Linked DNA regions of Homo sapiens: region 2 is linked to region 1. Evidence: fine-mapped expression QTL. A gene starts in region 1. The other region holds a variant in brackets. All regions are shown on one strand. Distances are from middle to middle. Region 1 holds the start of PITX1-AS1 (PITX1 antisense RNA 1). Region 2 overlaps PITX1-AS1 (PITX1 antisense RNA 1).

Region 1 (9,621 bases):
GTTGAGGCCCGAGTTGGGCATGCCAGGCACGGCGCCTGGGCCCATGCTGGACGGCATGGTCATGGAGGAGATGGAGCTGGGTGCTGAGAACATGGACTGCGACGACAGCGGGCTCATGGAGTTGAAGAAGGTGAAGCTCTTGGTGGAGAGCGGCGCTGGCGCCAGGCTCTTGGCGGCCCAGTTGTTGTAGGAGTAGCCGGCGGCGTACACGTCCTCGTAGGGCTGCACTAGGCCGCTGAACTGCGGCACGTAGCCACCCTTGCACAGGTCCAGCTGCTGGTTACGCTCGCGCTTACGCCACTTGGCTCGCCGGTTCTTGAACCAGACCTGGGGGAGGGGACGGGAGAAGGGTCAGGGCCGCTGCGGGCCGGGAGGGACCCCACCCCCTTCCCCACCGCCTGGAGCCTTCCGTCGGCCCGCTGCCCTCCGAACGTCGTTTCTCTCCTTCGACCGATATTTCCGCTCCTGCATTCCCTCCACAATGGTTCCTTTCCTGTCCCCAGAAAATACTAATTTCTTTTTCCGATCTTTATCCTCTCCCGAAATTATATCCGTTTTCTTCTCCGAATACGGATTCTCGTTTAACAGATATTCGTTTTCTTTCTTCCTCTCTCAACCAGTTCACCTCTGCCTTCTCCCCCAAACAGGTTCGCTCTATCTACTAAATATTTCAGTCTTTTTATTCTCCCTCAAATACAAAAGGTATTTTTCCTCCCTGAGACATAGGACTTTCCGACTCCCCCAATTCTTCGATCTATTTCATCGCTCAAATAGTTTGTTATCATCTTTATCGGCAATATTTGATGTTTTCTTTTTGGCTCCAAATGTTTATTTTCGTTCAGTCCACCCCACTGTCTGAACCTCTTTCTTCTCCCTCAGTCTGTTTTCTTGTTTATCCCCCATTTTTGATCCTTTTGAATCGTCCTCAAATATTAGGCTTTTGAATCCTTTCCAAATATCTGACCTGCACTGTTCCCCTTAAACAGTTGATTCTTTTTCTCAAATACCTGATCTTTTTGCTTCCTATTTAATTTCTTTCCTGCCGCCTAAATATATGCCAAATATGTTTCTCCACAAATATTTAAATTTTTTCTATTCTTACTAGATTCTTCTAATCTTCCTGCCCTTCCTTTTCTCCCCCCAAATTTGGTAAGAACCTCCTAGTCCTCCCCCATCCTTACCTATCTGCCTACCGCATGCCCTCTGCCCACTCGGATTTTCCTCCAGTTCTGAGTGGAGTTTCCTGAGCTAGTTTGCCAGATCCCTGCTTCTCAGCTTTCCCTAGTCCCCAGCACTGACACTACCTGATTCCACCCCCACCCACCCCTACCACCATAAACCTGGGCAGGATTAGTGAGTTCAGGATTACTGAGTGCTGTGTCTTCATTCCAAGTCCCACTGGGCTGGCCAGCCTGCCTAGGGAGGGGTGAGGGCTGGGGTTATGGTAAGGAGTCTGTGGGCCAGCTGGGATTTTGGTCGACTTGGGAGGTGCTCCCAATATCTGATTAAATATTTACGCCCCCAGGGAAGAAATGATTCTCTTGCTACCCTGGCAGGAAAGCCTTGCTTTTACTGGAAACCAAACGGGTGAGAAGAGGGAGAATGCAGGCTGGTCTTGGGTCTGAGATGGCATATCCTAAAAGGGACTGGGAAGGACATTTGGCTCCCGGAGCCACCCCCCACCTCACCTGACGGGAGACCTTCCGGAAAGGGCAGAAGGCAAAGGGTCCTACTGATGGCTGGGGAGGGTGGAGAATATCTTGAGCTTTTAGAGAATCTGCTTATGAGATGGGACCACTGCTCCAGGAAGTTTTGAGAGCCCCAAACCCAGGCACCTTTCAGGCTTCTCCGAGGCAGCCAGACAGGACCTGCCTTTCCCTTTCGTTTTCGGGATAAGGCCAACAGCTCCCGAGGTCCCCAGCGGCAGGGAATCCACTGCCCAGTCTCTGGCCCAGGGTATCCTGCTAACATCTGAGTGGGTCCTGGGCCCCATAGGGCATGGGGGAGTCCCCTGGGGGCACAGGTCTTTGGGCTGGGGTTGCCTTAGTCCGAGGATCAGGTAGGATGAGGGTCAAAGGGGTTGAAGGTCCGAGGCGCCTGGAGGCCTGGCAGACGCTAGTGGGCCAGGGCCTAAGGTGGGGATCTCCGGTGGAGGGAGGGAGCAGGTCTGAATGGTGGGAGAGTGAAGTTCTGCTTGTGGGTCTAAGCTTTGGAGGGCTGCAGCAGAGGCGGCCCGGGAGCCCTCTGCGCGGGTGCCCTTAGGCGCGCACCCCTTGCTCACCCGCACGCGCGGCTCGGTGAGGTTGGTCCACACGGCGATCTCCTCCCTCATGCTCATGTCGGGGTAGCGGTTCCTCTGGAACGTGGCCTCTAGCTCTTGCAACTGCTGGCTTGTGAAGTGCGTACGTTGCCGCCGCTGCTTCTTCTTCTTGGCTGGGTCGTCTGCGCCGCCGCAGCCCGTGCCTCCCGCACCACTGTCCTCGGGCCCCTTGGGTTCCCCGCCGCGCTCCTTCTCTGCAGTAGGCAGGACGGGGAGCGGGTCACCTGGGCTTACGCCCCGTTGCACCCCGTCCCGGCTCCACCGAACCGCTCGCCACCAGCGCTGGCGGTCTTCCCTCCCTCCCTCCCTCTAGGGTTCCTGGGAACTGTCCCCACTGGAAAGCGCCCGCCGGGTGCTGGTCGTCAGTAGGCACCTCTAGTCTGGTGTGCCGCGGAGAAGAGCCCAAGAATCGGAGCTGGAGCCGCGGGCCTGCGTTCCTGGCTGGGCAGGGCCTGCACCCTTAGCTCGGCTCAGATTCTGACCCTGCTGCTGATGTTCCCAGCAAATGTATGCTTTTTGTTTGTTTGTTTTGCGAACTCTTAGGGGGTCTAAATCTGAGGGGGTCTCTGCTTTTCTGAACTAGGATCAGATCTCTCCAGCCTAAAGTCCCTCCACTTTCTTCTCCTCAGGGGTGTATGGGAGCCCCACTGGGCAGGCACAACACAGCCGGGTTCTCGGCCTTGCTTCCAGGCCTCCAGTCCCAAAGCCTAGAAAACCCCACCAACTGCAGCCCAGACAGACAGACTCTGTCTAGGTGACCTCGGGCTTTAGTCTGTCTCTCTTTGAAGCTACACAAAACACACGCAGTCATAGAAACATTAATACATAAAGAAAAAGAGTTTAAAAACAAAACACAGAAGCCCAGAAAAGCTCACAGCTCTATGCCTAAAGACACTGAAAGGGCCACAAATTCTCAAAATCAGACAGGAAGAAACACAGAGCAAATGTAAATTAAGAAGCCAGAAAGCTCCGTACAAACACACCCCTAACTAAATACAGAGCTGTAAGTGTATAAACTCCAGGTTGACAGAAGCATTTATTTCTCTGGGATTTAAAAAAATAATGTACCGTTGTAGATAGATTTTTAACTCCTTCCCAATAAGGCCCTTGTAGAGATAATTTTTAAATCCCAGAGAAACACATTATAGTTAGATAATTTAAATTCCCCAAATAACACCACTGTAAATGGATTTTGAGAAAATTCCGGAGAAACGCGCCATTTTGGATTGACTTTTTAAAATCTCCGGAAGAATAATGTTGCATGTAGATATTTTAAATTCCAGACCTACACTTCGTACGTTAATTCTTTCAGAATCGAAAGATACAGTTAAAATTAATTCATCCTCATAGATTTGGTTCAAAAAAATCAATATACGATTATATATCTCTCTAGGTTTTAAAAATAAAACCAACCAAAGACCGCGCTTAAAACTTTTGAAAACAAAAGTAGAGTTCAGCGTTGATTATGTTTTAACCAAGCAAACAACCTCTCAGAAAAATCACTTAGGGATGCAAAAGAGAAACAGATACTAAGAAAGTGGAGAGAAACATTCAGCTGTGTATTAAGAAATGAACGCAGAAGAGGCGCCCACACCGGGGAGCTCGGAGCCCCTCCGGAACCCGGCCGGCTGCGCTGGGCAGCGGATTCGCTGCCCCACTGCCCGCGCCGGCCACCCGCGGGCCCAGTTCGCTGCTGGAAAAAAGCTCCAGCTCGGACAAAAAAAGGCAGCGCGGAGGGAGACGCGCAGGAGCCGGGGCGGGGGCCAGAGCCGGGCTGCTCCGGGCTTCGGCCGCGCACGTGGGCCGGATCCCTTGATCGGCGTTCCGGCTGGCCTTGCTGGGAGTCCGGCCGCGCCTGTTGGCCCGCTCGCCCTCACCGTCCTCTGTGTCTCCCTTCTACTTGATGACCCCTCTCCCCCCGTTTACCCTTCCCGCCCGCCCCTTCTCTTTGGTCTCTTTCATTCTGTCGCCTACTGTCACGGTGTTAACCTCCCTCTCTGTCTCTCTGAGTGCGTTCTCTCGCCCGTCACCCCTCTTCCTTTCTCGGTCTCCTCCTCTCCCTTCGTCCGAGCCGCTCCTTAGCGCCCAGTTGCGCAAATCAAATTCTTTCCCGTTCTATTTACTCCTGATCAAGAGGGGCTGTCAGTCCAACCCTCCAGCTGTAGGCTCGTGCATCTGCCAGTCTCTTGGCGCGTGGGGACCGCGTGGAAGTGCCTTCGCGTGTGCGTAAGTTTCCGCGTTCACCGTCAGGTCGAGAACGGGAAAAAGAAAGCTCCTGACGCTTCTGGGGCGGAGAGGGAGCTTGGTTGCGCGGCGCGGGCGTCAGGCCCTGCTCCCAGCTCCCCGTGCTCCGCGCCCGGGTAGGCTCTGTGCGCGCCGCGCGGGGAACGGCGCTTACCTGGCAGCTCCGTGTCAGACGACTCGCTGGCGGAGTTCTCGAGCGGCTCGCGGGGGTCGGCGGGCCGGGCCAGGTGGAAGGCGGGCCCCATGTCATGGGGTGGCGGCGGCGGCGGCCGGAGCCCCTCCGGCAGCCGCTCCAGGCTCATGCCCCCCTTGAAGGCGTCCATGGAGGTGGGGACCGCGGCGGGCGCTCCAGGGGCCGGGGCTGGGCGCGCCCCGCCGCCCTGGCTGCGACCTGCGGGGACAAGAGCGCAGCGCCTAAGCGGCTGCCCTCCAGGGCTGCCGGCGCCTGCAGCGACGCCGTGCCCGCCCCATGGACCGCCCGGGGCTGCGGCGCCGGGCGGGCAGAGGCGGCGGCAGCTTCTCGCGACTGGGCGCCTGGCTCAGCGCTCCGCGCTGCGCTCCTGCCGCTCGGGCCTCAGCAGCCCGGCCGGCCCCGGCTCCGGCTCCGGCTCCGGCTCGCGATCCGGGGCCGGTTTCTAAGGCTCCGGACGGCGCCGGCAGAGTCTGTCTTAAAGCGACAGCGCGCACAGCCAGGTTCCAGCAGTCCCTGCGCCAGGGGTGCTGGGTGGGGTGGGCCTGGGTGGGAGGGGGCTGGGGAGGGAGCGAGCGAGCGAGGGAGCGCGGGCGGAATCCAGCCCCAAGCCGCCCGCGCCGCCGCGCCCTCACTGCCGCCCTCCCTCCCTCCCTGCCTCGCCCGCGCCCTCCCCCTCCGCAGCCACCTTCCCGCCGCCTCCCCGCCCCCCGCGGCCTCGCCGCGCCTCTCCCTCCTTCCCCGGTGACACACCGAGTTCTCCCTCGGCCTCACAAAAGAAACGCATCTGGCCTGCGAGTCCCGGGCGGCTCGTGCACACCTCAGGCCTCAAATGACTTGTTTCGCCTAGAATCAACTCCCGTCTCGGCCGCCTCGAAGTCCCCAGCCCTGGCGAGAACAGCCCAGGATGAGTGAATGTTTGCCGAACAGGATCGCACCGAGCGGGCGCCTTCGAGCCAGCGCCGGGGCGGGGGCAGAGCCCGGGGCCCGTTCCGGCAGCTCCCAGCGGTGTCCTCGTCGAGGGGCCGCCTGCCCCTCCTTCTCCAGCCTCTTCTCCCGGGAACTCAGCCCGGCTGAGTGACAGCAGCCTGCGCTCTAATGGGCCCCCGGATGCTGCCTCCTAATTAGCTTGGACCTTCTCCCCTACGGCTGCTTCTCAGGCCTCCCTCTCTGCACCGCAGTCAATTTTCCGGGATTGGGATAGAAATGATGGCTTCTAATCAGACGAAACGTTTCTGCTGGCTCTAGGCGTTTGGAGAATGCAGAAGGAAGACCCCAAGGATCCCAGCCAGACCCCACAGCCTCTTGTACCTCTCCCCTTGTTTTACACCTTAGGCCTTGGCCAAATGGGCCAGGCCTGGCCTTGGCAGGCATGGGGTTGGCCTTGGCAGCCTTTGCCCTCCTTCAGGGTAGCTTTGTCCCAGCCTGGGGCCTGCGTCCTGGCTTCCCAGGGCTTCAGGCATAGGCCTGGTAAGCCAGGTGACTGCTGTCTCCCAACCCTGGGCCAGCAGCCCAGGAAGCCCTCAGTCTTCCAGCTTCTCTCCCACACAGTGGTAGCTGAGCTGCAGCTCCAATGGGCCTTCACTGGGCACAGGCAAAGACATTACTCTCCCACTCCTAAGAGTGATTCCCTCCTCGAGTCCTTGCACGTAGGTGAAGTTTGTCGAAGGATTTTGCTCAACAATTGTTAGCTGGCCCCGAGACCTCAGCGTCTTGAGCAAACAGGCCACAGCTGGGGCGGCAAGGCGCCGCCCTGACCTGCTCCTCTGGCCATAGGCGGACCCCAGACTGCCCTCTGCCCCTCACCTGTGATCAGCTCCACCAGACACAGCAACCCAAGGGAGCTGCGCCAGGATTGTCTGCCTGGGAAAGAAGCAGGGAGGTGTCCAGTGTCCTCACCCCAAAACCCAGTGCCTCCTCAACTCCTGGGTGGGTGGCACTGACTGTGCAGGTATCAGCGTCTGGGGCACTCTGCAGGTTCTGCCTTTGAGTCCTCGTCTTACCCCTTCCCATCACAGGGAGACACCCAGGGTCAGCTGAGCTCCTTGTGGGGGCTGCTGGGGCCAGGGTCGGGCATGCAGGGTGGAACCAGGCCTGCCTTCCATTCCCTCCACGTTAGTCCAAAGCACCCCCACCCCTACCCCCATCCCCATCCCCATCCCCATCCCCATCCCCATCCCCATCCCCCGCTCTGGGCCGTGGAGAGACAGCACAGCTCCTTAGGGCCTGGTCCTTTCTCACTGTGGGTCTGTGACCACAGGATGCAGGGTCTGAGGCCAGAGGGAGGACACTTCTCAGGGGTTTGGATTGGGGAGGCTCAGTGACTCCTGCCTTCTTCCAAGCTGAGATCTCCCTCCATGAAATGAGTCTTGGCTACGGGGAGGGGAACATGGGGAAGCACAGTTGCCCAGCATTTGCCCTCAGCCCCACCGTTGCCATGTTTCTTGGCCACCTTTACCACGAGTCTCCTGCAGTAGAAGATCCCTCCTTTCAAGGAGATATTCAGGTGTTGCAGCGTGCTAGGGAGTGTCCCTTCACAGACCATTCTTTTTTTAGCTGTCTTACCAAAAAGAACAGCCTGAATGCAGACAGCATGGGGGCACGCACACACACACACATCCTGTACATCCATGCGGAGATGCTGTACACACACATGTATTCACTGCACTATGGAAGTGCTGAGTTTAGGCATATATGTGCTACTTGGCATGAACGCGGGCTGGCAGGGGATAGGAGGTGTGTTCTAACCCTGCCACATGTCAGGCCAAGGTGGGAAGCACAGTGCGTCTCTGGGTAGAGACTTAGAAATGAATGGTCTGTCTGTGGGCCTCTAGAGGAGGTTAAGACTCACAGCCTTCTCACTTGCCTTCTCACTTCCCAGAGGGACCAAAGTGACTCTTTGGGCCATCCCCCAATGGGGACTATTCTGTGAGCAGCACTCACTGCTTAGTCTGAGGGGCGTGTTTCCTCACTGTTAGTGCATTTAATGCAGTTATTGAGCACCTGCTGTGTGCCCCTCTGGGCCCAAACCTCTGGCAGGGCTCCAGGCAGGCACAATAGTCCCTTTATTTGGTGATCTTGATGCCTGCTGTGTAGAAGGAAAAGCCCTCAGACCATTTCAGGTGAAGCCCCATATCCTCAGGGGACCTGAGACCCAAAGAGGAGCTGGGGCTAGTGGGGCCTGCTGGCAGAGTCTGTTCTGCTGGGCCTGGGCAGCACTGAGTGATCAAGGAGTGAGGAGGCAATTGATTGTGAGGAGGCTGTGGCCTGATCTTGGGCGTTGGCTGGGGAAGGGACCTGGACATGCTCTCAATTCTTCCCCAGCTACACTCACTGGCCATTGTCCCAGTCAAGATAGGGGCTTCTTGCACGCTCACAGACACGTCACACATACAGGACAGAAAACAGCACTCTTTCAGGAGTAAGCAGAGGCTTTGTGTTCCCCCAGCTGTGCTATGTGACCTGTGTTTCCCTCAAGGTTAAGGCTTGATCTGCACTGTGCCTCAGTTCCCATGTCCAACACCGGACTCTGCCTGCTGCTTCAGCATCCAGCTCACTTGCTGATGGGACACGAAGAGAGGAGGGAAGGGGGCTTAGTGGAGCTGGAACCATGTGCCCTGTTCCCCACCCCTCCGTGACCACACAAAGCCAGCAATGATTCTCTGATTTTCAAGAATTTTGGAGTTTAGGGTCTTGGCTGGGCTGAGCAGAAGAGCTTGGGCTGTTGTGGGGTTGAAGTAGTCACCATGAGGACCCTTCCTGAAGCCTGGCTCACTAAAAACACCCTGTGCCCAAGAATGGTTTAGTAATGTAATTTGGGAAGGGTGGTTGGAAGGCTCTCAGTGGGGGGGCATCCTTCTACCCACCCACGGGGGCACCGTGCCCTAATCCTTGCTCCCAGAATCAAGGTATTTTAGGAAAAAGGAAGGAATGTGCCATGGCCTGCCACCAGGGCTATCCATGACTCTCTGGGACATTCCAGCCCTAAGCCTCTTAGTCCGTGGAGAAGTTCAAACTTGAAAACCCTGTTTTGGGAGTGCAGGTTTGGACCACCTACCTCTTTCTGCCTGATCTAACACCCCCTCCCCAATAAAAGCTCCCGTTTCTTTGAATACAGCAATTACTGGGTAAGTGGGGAGGAGGGTGCTCAGGTAGGGGCTGGAAAGACCTCACTGGCTCCTTTAGGCTTCCTGGGACCCCAGTCTGAGGCTTCCTGCCAAATGGGGATCCCCAGCCTGTCCCGGGGAGAGCCAGGATGTATTTGAGCAGGACTGCCGCCAGTGAGGCACAGATGGGAGTATGGAACTCAGGACTCTGTGCCGTGGGCCGCTCAGTCAGCGGCTGGTAGGACCCATGGCTCTACCCGGCCCATCTCTCACCTAAGTCCATGGACGCTGTCTGGTTCCTGAGAATGGCTGAGCTGTGGGGAAGAAGACTAGGAAGGAGGTAGCAGCTGGTCGCACAACTGGGGAGCAGAGGGGCAACTTATGGATGCACCATAGCCTCCTCCTCCCAGCGGCTGCTTTCATGGGAGAAGAGCACCCTGAGCCTGTCTGGAGGCCTCTGCATCCTAGAGTCCAGACAGCCTGGTCTCCAAGCCCCAGCCCACCTCTTTTCCTTTCCCTGGAAGAGATGCGGGAGGCCGAAAGCAGCCCCGGGAAAGGGCACGGGGACAGCAAGTCTCCTGTGCTGCCCCTGCTGCCTGTAGCTTTTGCCCTGACTACCGTAGACCTGAACCCTAGACCTGAATCCTCCCCCAGTGGACAGCAACCTGGGATTTCCTCCCTCTGGCCCTGGTGGCTTTCAGAGGTCACAGGGATGTCAAGAGAATTTGTGTTTTTCAGAATTTAGTTTTTCAGAAAAGTGG
Region 2 (9,621 bases), 240 kb after region 1:
GACAAGGGCCCACAAGTGAACGACAAGACAGGTGGTGCGGAGGATCTGGCGTGAGGACTGTGCCACCTCCTCACAGCTTTTCTCTCTGGGCTCTCCCTCTTCTCAGGGGTCCTGCCAGGCTTGAGAATTCACCTGGGGATGGGAGCATGGTGGGGCTGGAGCTGCAGGGAGCCACGGCAGGCCTTGGACATTGGTCATCTGGCCTCTCCAGCAGGGCTTGGCTGTAGACTAGAACTTGTCTTGTCAGGGATCCCGGGCTTGCAATGAAGAAAGGGGGCTGGGCCTGCATGGGAGTGGCGGGGAGGCCGAGGGCCACTCCCCAGGGAAAGGGCTCCTCAGGGCTTTCGGCACTCTGAGGGCTCCATAATGCAGGTCCCTGTGGTGATACGAGACCAGTGCCTGACTACAGCGTAGGTTCCGGAAAAGTAAGGGGTCTTAACAACTAATCTAATCCTCCCCAAGCCCTTGTGGTGTGAGGTGGATACACTTACTGTCCCTGTGTTACAGCTGAGGAAACCTAGGCTCAGAGAGGTTGAATAACTTGTCCAATGGCATATGGATAGTAAGCGTATTTAAACCCATGTCTGACTCCAGAGCCAGGCTCTTCAGCACAGGTCACAGAAGTGGCAGGAATGCCTGCCTAAAGGAGCCGGGCCTGAGAGAGGGGGCCCAGCTCACTGCGGCCTCACTGCAGTTCCCTCAGGGTCAGGGGCTGTCTCGGCCAGACAGGAGAGGAAAGGGCACACCCGGTGGCACCTACACCCACTAAGCCATTTGAGGGGACAGGTCTCTTCTAGGCTAGGGAGGCTGCCCTTGAGGGCCCTACTGCCAGGCACATGGTGCTGGGGACAGAAGACAGGAAGCCTGGGCAGGCAAGCCCTCATAGAGAGTCCGTACTTGCACCCCAAGGAGCTTAATAAGACTAGGCTGGTCCTGCTGCGGCTAACAGAACCAGGAGCAAAGTCATGCCCAGCTGAGGGACCCCAAGGGCCATGGGTGGGAACTGGGACCCTTGTCCAGCGGGGAGGGCTGGAGCTGAGTCTGGAAGGATGAACAGGATGTGAGAGGTTTGCCCTCAGGAGAGGAGAGCATTGCTGCTGGGCCCTCAGGAGAGGAGAGCATTGCTGCTGGGCCCTCAGGAGAGGAGAGCATTGCTGCTGGGCAGAAAAGCCCAGTGGTGTGTTTGGGTTAAAGTCCTGGTTCTGCCCTATGTTACCCTGAGCAACTTGCTTAACCTCTCTGTGCCTTTCCTCACCTATAAGGACAATAATAGTGCATGTTGCATATGGTTGTTTTGAAGAGCAGATGAGTTAATGCAGGTAGAAAGCTGGGTCTGTACTCAGTGAACTAGGAGGTAACTGTGTGCTCGCTTTGGACTGCTGTTATTCTCAGCTGAGAAACATGAATGGCCACAATCTTGGGGGCATGGGAGGGGAAAGGGGACCAGTGACTTGAATTGTGAGTTGGGAGAGCCACCCTCATCCTCCTGACCTGTTTCCCTGGACCTCCAGCCCTTTTACCTGGGGTTTCCCCAGGGAGACACGTCAAGTGTTGTCCAATAAAATATTTCCTGGAGTTGGTGGTGTTCCTCCACCTGGACTGAAAGCTGAAGCTTGGCAGAGCCATCTTTCAAAAACGGTGGAGGGCTCACTGCATTCAACAAACATTGTTTGATTTTTCCCTTTCTGTGCAAGACACTGGGCTACGCTTTGGGGAGAAACAGCTGACCGGCTGAGTCTTTGCCCTCAAGGAGCTTGTGGTCAAGTGAGAAGTCAGGTAAATTCACTCATTCACGCTGTCACTCCGCCACCATTTGCTGCATGCTTACTTTGTGTCAGAGACCTTCCTAGAAACTGAGAACACAGCAGAGGACAGGACAGTTGGCTCCCGCCCTCAGATCCCACATGCTGGACTGGTGGTTTGCATCTCCAAGGTGGCATCAAGCTGCACCAGGTTTGGAGTGACCAACCTGACCTTCAGTCCCTACTTCCTGCCAAACATTGGGAAGCAGACAGTAGACAGTGTGGGAGTGGTTAATAGCTGGGTCTCTAGAATGGGACAAACCTGGTTTTGTGTCCTTGCTCTGCTGTTTACTGGCTGTGGGACCTTAGGCAAGTTACTTTACCTCTCTAGACCTGTTCTTTGTCTATGAAATGGGGGTAATGATACCTTCCTTATGGGGTTATGGTAAAGAGTAAATGAGATGATGTATGAAAAACATTTAGAACAGAGCTCAGCACACTAGTAGCACCTATTAAATGTGCACCTGTTAGCACTGCTGTTGTGGTTACTACTCTCTTGCTTTTAGGTGCTTCCATGAGACGGGGAGGACTCTCCCGTTTCTTATAGGACTTAATATTTAAGAAAGCATTTAATGGCTGGGCACGGTGGCTCACGCGTGTAATCCCAGCACTTTGGGAGGCCAAGGTGGGCGGATCACGAGGTCAGGAGATCGAGACCATCCTGGCGAACACGGTGAAACCCCGTCTCTACTAAAAATACAAAATTTAGCCGGGCGTGGTGGCGGGCTCCTGTAGTCCTAGCTACTCGGGAGGCTGAGGCAGGAGAATGGTGTGAACCCGGGAGGTGCAGCTTGCAGTGAGCTGAGATCGGGCCACTGCAGTCTAGCCTGGGTGACAGAGAGAGACTCGGTTTCAAAAAAAAAAAAAAGCATTTAATAAGTCAGGCACGTAATTCTTCAAAGTTGACTAATTTCCTGAGTTTATATGTAACCTTTAAAAATCAGAAAAAAAAGGATAACTCAATGGAAAGTTGGGTAAAGACTTGAGCAGGAAGTTCACAGAAAAAGAAGTATTTATAATCAAGCGAAAAGCTTATAAGCAAATGAAAAGAAACTTACATTTTTAAAAATGCCTATTAACACAGCAAGATAGCATTTAACTAGCAGGCTGATGAAAATTTAAAATTTGGTAATGCATTTTGTTGGAAAGGATGTGGGGAAACAGGCATGGTCAGTCAGGGCAGGGAGTGTAAATTGGTATAAGACTTTTGGAGGAAAGTTGGGCAATTTCTATGAAAAATGTACCATCCTTTTGATTTAGCAATTTTATATGTAGGAATTCATCTTATGGATATAGTCGTGTTCATAAATGAGTGCAGTGATATCAATTTAAGAACATCCATCATGTCACTGTTTATTACAGCAAAAAAAAAAGAACTGTAAATGTCCACAGAGAGAGGACTGATTAAACCAAGTACATCTATGCAATGGAATATCCTGAAGCTGTTAGAACATGAAGGGCCTATAATGTATTGAAGATCTTAACATATCATCAAGACATGTCAAGTACAGAAACAGAAAGGTACAGAGCATTATGTAGAGAATGTAGAGAATACTCCCATTGGTATTAAATGAAAGGTATATGTTCATACATATGTTTATATGTCTAGATTATACCCTCTTTGAATGCATAAGAAACTATTCACAGTGATTACCTTTAGACAGAGGTCTTGGGAGCCTGGCAGGGAGAGAGCCTTCTTATTCTACTTATGCATAGTGTCAGAATTTCTTATTATATGCCTGAATTACTTTTATAATTATAAAGGAAGAAGTCAAACCATGTGAACTACACATTAGTAGTTAAGAAATAAAATGCTGTTCCAAGTTTTGTGGGTGTGCTTGGACTGATAATGTTTTTCCTCTAAGATCCTACTAAGAACTATTTAAGAAATGGCTTTCAGGCATAGTCACCTATTTAGAAGGTTCAAGCATAAAATGGGGTCTTGCGGTGCTTGGACCAGTGTGAAACAGAAGGGGTTGGGTCTGAACTTGCCAGTGTCCAGGGAATCCTGTTCTTCCCAGGCCTTGAAGAATAGGCAGTGGGTTGTATGTTCTCAAGTCCCCCTGTTGAATTAGGATACACAGCTGCTGGGGTGAGGGCTGAGATCCGTCTGCGTCCTCAGAACCAACCCCACCCCTGTGCTGGTAAGCAGGTGTTCTCCAGGGGAGAGACCCTGGGGTCAGTCTGACTAAAATGAATCTTCCAAATGGGTGTGCAAATCTGCATTTCCTGTGAGGGCCATCCAGACAGTTTTCAAGTGTACGGAATTTGAGGAACAATGTATGCTTTCTGTGCTTGAATCTTTGGGAGCTAGCGGAGGCCTCTGTCGGGAGTGCAGTCAGACAGGTGGGAGCCTCTGGAAGAAGCCGCCTGTGCAGCTGGCCTGTGGCTTCTCATCAGGCACAGCAGCCATGCCTTTTTTGCTCTCATTCCCCACCCTGCTTCCCTTCCTCCTCCTCCTTTTTTTCTCTTAAAGTTTTTTTTTTAAATTAGTTTTTGTTTTACATTTAATTTCAAAATAAATGTTACCTTTGCACATAGTTTAGAGGGTAGAATAACTCTAGCATGCTTGTTGCAAACACACACGTGCAAGCACACAAAGTCCTGGACTTCTCCATCACCCCTCCACAACAATTTTCTACTATCTAGAGGCATCTACTTTTAGTAATTTAGCTAATTTTTAAAATATGTATCTCTAAATGTCATATTTATATTTCTGCTACTTGAATTTTCCATTTTCAGCATTGTGTATTGACTCCTCACTGGAGAAGAAGAAGAGTTAGCTGTTTTCCCCACTGCCTGTCGACACCCCTGCTTCCCATCTGCCATCTTTCCAAACAGTTATAGTGTAATTTTATTAGATCAATATTCAGTGATTATACTACTTTGACCCTGAAAACGCTGTTCACAGCTGAGCTGTGATGACTTGTACTTTCCTGATCCACATTTATTCCCTGGAGTTAATCTTTTTCCCCCTCTGCTTAGTTTTTTATGTATATGTCACCAATCCAACACCAAATTCTCCCCAAGTTGAATACAATTTGTCTCAAAATTATATCCACAATTCTGGTTCTACCAATTTCATCTTTTTGAGGACATCTCTCCTGGAACCTTTGGAGCTAGACTGGGTGCTTCCTAGGTCTGCTCTTCAGCTGTTGTTTGAGGACTACTCTTCATGAATATCTTGGCGATTCCTCAGGTTTCCTTTCCTACTAATCTTGTTTCCTGGGTTCCATGTTCTCTTCTTTCTTGAGTTGCTTCATCATTTTGA[T/C]GAAGCACATTTTTTTTTCATTAACTTACAAAGAGGTAAGCAATTTTTTTTGAGACCTTGCATGTCTGAGAATGTATTTGTTGTATCCTCATTATTATTTTTATTATTATCTTTTTTGAGACGGAGTCTTGCTCTGTCACCCAGGCTGGAGTGCAGTGGCACAACCTTGGCTCATTGCAACCTCCACTTCCCCGGTTCAAACAATTCTCCTGCCTCAGCCTCCTGAGTAGCTGGGACTACAGGTGGGTGCATGCTACCATGCCTGGCTAATTTTTTGTGTCTTTAGTAGAGACGAGGTTTCACCATGTTAGCCAGGTTGGTCTTGATCTCCGGACCTCATGATCCGCCCACCTCAGCCTCCCAAAGTGCTGGGATTACAGGCATGAGCCACCGCGCCTGGCCTGTATCCTCATTCTTTTTTTTTTTTATTATTTAAGTTCTCATTGTTAATTGATGGTTTGGCTGGGTATAGAATTCTAGGTTGGAGATACTTTTCTCTCAGAACATTGGTGGACTTGTGCCATTGTCTTCAAGCTTCCAGGATTGCTAAGAAGGCTATTGTGTGAAAACTGTTTGTTTCTCTCTTACTATTGGAGTTTTTCTTTGTCCTCGTTATTTTGAAATTTCAGAAGGTTCCTTGATTTGGATCTATTTTTGCTCATTGTGTGAGGCATTTAGTAGGTCTTTTCAATCTGGAAACTCACATCCTTCAATTTTGGTTATTACTTGTGAAAATTATTTCCTTGATGATTTTCTCTCTCATTTTTCTCTTATGTTCCACCCTCCTCCCTGACCCTGAACTCCTAGTATTTGAATATGAGATCTATTGAATTTTTCTCCCATATTCTTATTTTTCTCTTATTTTTCATCTTTTTGCCTTCTCTGTTTTCTAAGCCACTTCTTTAAATCTTTGAGATTTTTATTGCATTTATTTCTACCATCATTTAAAAACATTTCTAAGAATTCTTTTCTGTTTTCTAAATGTTCCTTTTTAAAATAGCATCTTGTTTCATAGATGTAATATTCTCTAATATTAATAATTTTATCAAAGTTTTCTTCTCCTTACCTATTTGTTTTGTACACTATATTTTCTACTAGGTAGTTTCCTCAAATGCCTAGTGATTCTTGGTTGTTGCTCATATTTAAGAGTGAAGGTAACTACAAAGCTGACCTGAAAGCTCCAGGTACTTGGGTGGGGCTGTTTGAATCATAAACTTCATGTAGTGTCATCTACCTGGGCTGTTTTCGTAGAAAATCCTCTATGTTGGTCTATGTTGGTATCTTTTTGGTCTTTTTTCTGAAACTAATCAGATTGCTTGGAGAAATCTTCTCCGGTCTTCTGCCTGGAGGATATATATCTGACTACCAGCATTCTGGGAGCTTAGCAGGCGAAGGCTCATCATCTCCTTATTCAATATGCATATTAGTCCTTTGGGGCTGCCATAACAAAATATGACAGACTGTGTGGCTTAAACAACAGAAATTTATTTTCTCACAGTTTTGGAGGCTGGAAGTCCAAGATCAAGGGGTCAGCAGAGTTGGTTTCTGGTGAGGCCTCTCTTCCTGGCTTGTAGACAGCAGCCTTCTCACTATGTCCTCCATGGCTTTTCCTCTGTGCCTGTCCACAGAGAGAGAAAGCTTGCACTCTTGTGTCTCTTCCTCTCCTATAAGTAGACTAGTCCTATCAGGGCCCAATCTTTATGACCTCATTTAACCTTAATTACCTCCTTAAAGGCCCTATCTTTAAATATGGTCAAACTGGAGATTAGGGCTTCAACATATGGATATTGGTGGGGGGACACTATTCAGTCCATAACAGCATGTGAAACTTCACTTAATCTTTCTGTTTTCATTCTGATACATCCACCTTTAACAGTGCTTGGTGATCTTAATACTATTTCATCCTTTCCAGAAAATAATCTTATGGTCTTCTGCAGGAGTGGTGAAGAGGCTGTCATCTGGCTAGACGGAATGACGATAGGTATCTGAAGGTTTGGCAGATTCCTAAACCGATTGTAAACCAATCCTCCTCTTTTTAGATGCACATTGGTCTTCACTTCCAGAGATAATGTTGTGGCCATTTCCTGACTAGTTGATTTTTGACTTTTATTACTGTTGATTTAGGAATAAATTGTTTAGATCAGCTAAATTGGTTACCACTTGTCCAGCTTCCAAAATGTTCTTCTTGTTGTATTCTTTCCTGTTCTCATTGTCCATGGGGATTATACCATAACAAAATTCTTTTGACTGTTAATTAAGTGGTGTTTCTCGAGGGAGTACAGGTAAATGTATGTTTAATTCCCCATCTTTGACTGGAAGCTATATGTCATCTTCTGTTGAAAGCAAATAGAAGCCCGTCGGACAAGTTAGCTTTGATTCCAAGTCCATTTCTCCCTCAACTCTGGTGTTTTCACAAAATGTCTCTATCTTATTCAAATATGTTTGATTTTGCTGCATGATGCATTGACTGGCTTTTGAAGATGAGTGGTCTGATACCACTTGACCAAAAAATAGGGAGCCCACTCTGAGCTTATCACATGGATGCAAACGTCTTAATAAACTCAGAAAATGGTTTGTGTTTTCAGTTGAACAAAGCCTCCATATTTTCCTGAGTGCCATTTCCCTACACTTTAAAAGTTGATATATTTCCAGGGGAATCTAATCCATATGTTTCTTTCTTTCTTTTTGCTTTTAATACATCATAATATTGCTTCATAAAGCATTATTTAAGTCAATAGTCTTTATTAGCTTTTTTTAAAGCAAGGCTTTTACCTTAGCTTTTATTTAGAACCACATTTTTTGAAAACTTTGCAACCACAAAGTTGAGCTGAGCCCACAAAGATCTGAGTTACATTTGAAATTTTGAGTTTTGTTGGGTTCTAATTAGGGCAAAGCCATGCTCTCTAAAACCACATTCTCAGCTGAGCAAATCTGCACCCAGAATCCACTCCGCGAAGTATCTTATTTTGTGATATTTTTGGCCAATAACCAAAGCAGATATTTATTTAGGACCCGCAGCACACCTATCATTGTGGCTCACTATGTGGTCTGGAAGACAAGAATAGAAGCACCAACCTAGTTTGGGAGACTGGGGAAGAAGGGAAGGGTGTATCCCTTCTTCACTACACACTGTGTGCCTGATAGTGGACTAGCCACTTTGCCATTATTGATTTAAACCTAAGAATAAGCATTATTTTATCTACGTCGAATCCTTGTAATAAGTCCTCAGGATAAATGTTAAGTATTATCCCCATTTACATAAAAATAGTACTGAGGCTCTGGAAAGTTACTAAACTTGCCCAAGATTGTGCACTAATAAGGGATAGAGTCTGGTTTGGAACACAGGCAGGATCCCAATATATATAAACAGAATCCTGAGAAGAGGAAAATGATCAGGTACTTGGCATGGATGGCTGTCGATAGTGTTTGTAGAATTAGTGCAATGGGTCCCATGGTGCAATACTGTAAAGGGGAGAGAGGAGATTTATGAGGGCTGTCATCCCAAGAGAAGATGCTCTAGAGAAGACTATCATTCCAAATCTGTCTCATTCCCCACTGCTGCCACTGCGTCCAAGTCGCTGCCGTCTCTGCCCTGGGTAACTGCTGCAGCCTGCTGACTGCTCTCTGCCCATACTCCCTCTAGCCTGACTGTCTATTCTCATGCAGCAGCCAGCATGATCACTTTTTTAAAAAATCTGAAGCAAAATTTACCTACAGGGAAATGCATATAGCTTAAATATGTAACCTGATGAATTTTGACAAATATACACACCTTTGACCAACACCAGAGCCAAGACATAGAACACTTTCATTACCACTGAAAGTCCCTTGTGTCCCTTCCAGTCAGTCCCACCTACTTCTAATAGGCAACTATTCTTATTTCTAGCACTATAGGTTAGCTTAGTCTATTCTTGAGTTTTATGTAAGTGAAGTCACACAGTATGTACTCTATGTACTCATTTGTGTCTGGTTTCTTCATTCAGCATCATATTTTGAGATGCATCCATACTGTCACATGCATCAGTATTTCATTATTTAAGTTGTTGAACAGTATTTTCATTGTATAAAAATACCTGTTTGTTTACTGATTTTCTTTTTGAAGGAGGTTAGGTTGTTAACAGTCTGAGGCTATTATGAGTGAAGCTGATACAAACATTCTTGAACAAGATTTAAAAAAATTCAACTTTCATATTAGATATGGGGGTACATGTGCAGGTTTGTTATATAGGTATATTGTGTGATGCTAAGTTTTGGGGCATGGATCCTAATATGGTATGGCTGTGTTCCCACCCAAATCTCATCTTGAACTGTAGCTCCCACAATTCCCCTGTGTTGTGGGAGGGACCTGGTGGGAGGTAACTGACTCATGGGGGCAGGTCTTTCTAGTGTTATTCTCATTATAGTGAATAAGTCTGATGAGATCTGATGGTTTTATAAAGGGGCATTTGCCTGCACAAGTTATCTTCTCTTGTCTGCTGCCTTGTGAGATGTGCCTTTCACCTTCTGCCATGATTGTGAGGCCTCCCCAGCCACGTGGAACAGTGAGTC

Evidence for each region.
Region 2: its variant is fine-mapped to the expression of PITX1-AS1 in whole blood (INTERVAL, PIP above 0.99).

The regions. Positions count from the first base shown.
Region 1 is chr5:135,028,995-135,038,615 of GRCh38, forward strand. PITX1-AS1 (PITX1 antisense RNA 1) reads left to right here and starts at 4,280. Exons shown (of 6, transcript NR_161235.1): 1 at 4,280-4,546. PITX1 (paired like homeodomain 1) reads right to left here and starts at 5,234. Exons shown (of 3, transcript NM_002653.5): 1 at 4,719-5,234; 2 at 2,282-2,514; 3 at 1-327. The coding sequence starts at 4,887. RefSeq lists enhancers at 109-793, 4,118-4,750 and a silencer at 2,740-2,947.
Region 2 is chr5:135,272,317-135,281,937 of GRCh38, forward strand. All of the region lies in intron 3 of PITX1-AS1 (PITX1 antisense RNA 1), which reads left to right. Among named protein-coding and RNA genes, the nearest start is that of LINC02900, 29 kb to the left of the region's middle. The variant T/C (reference allele first, on the strand shown) is at 5,074.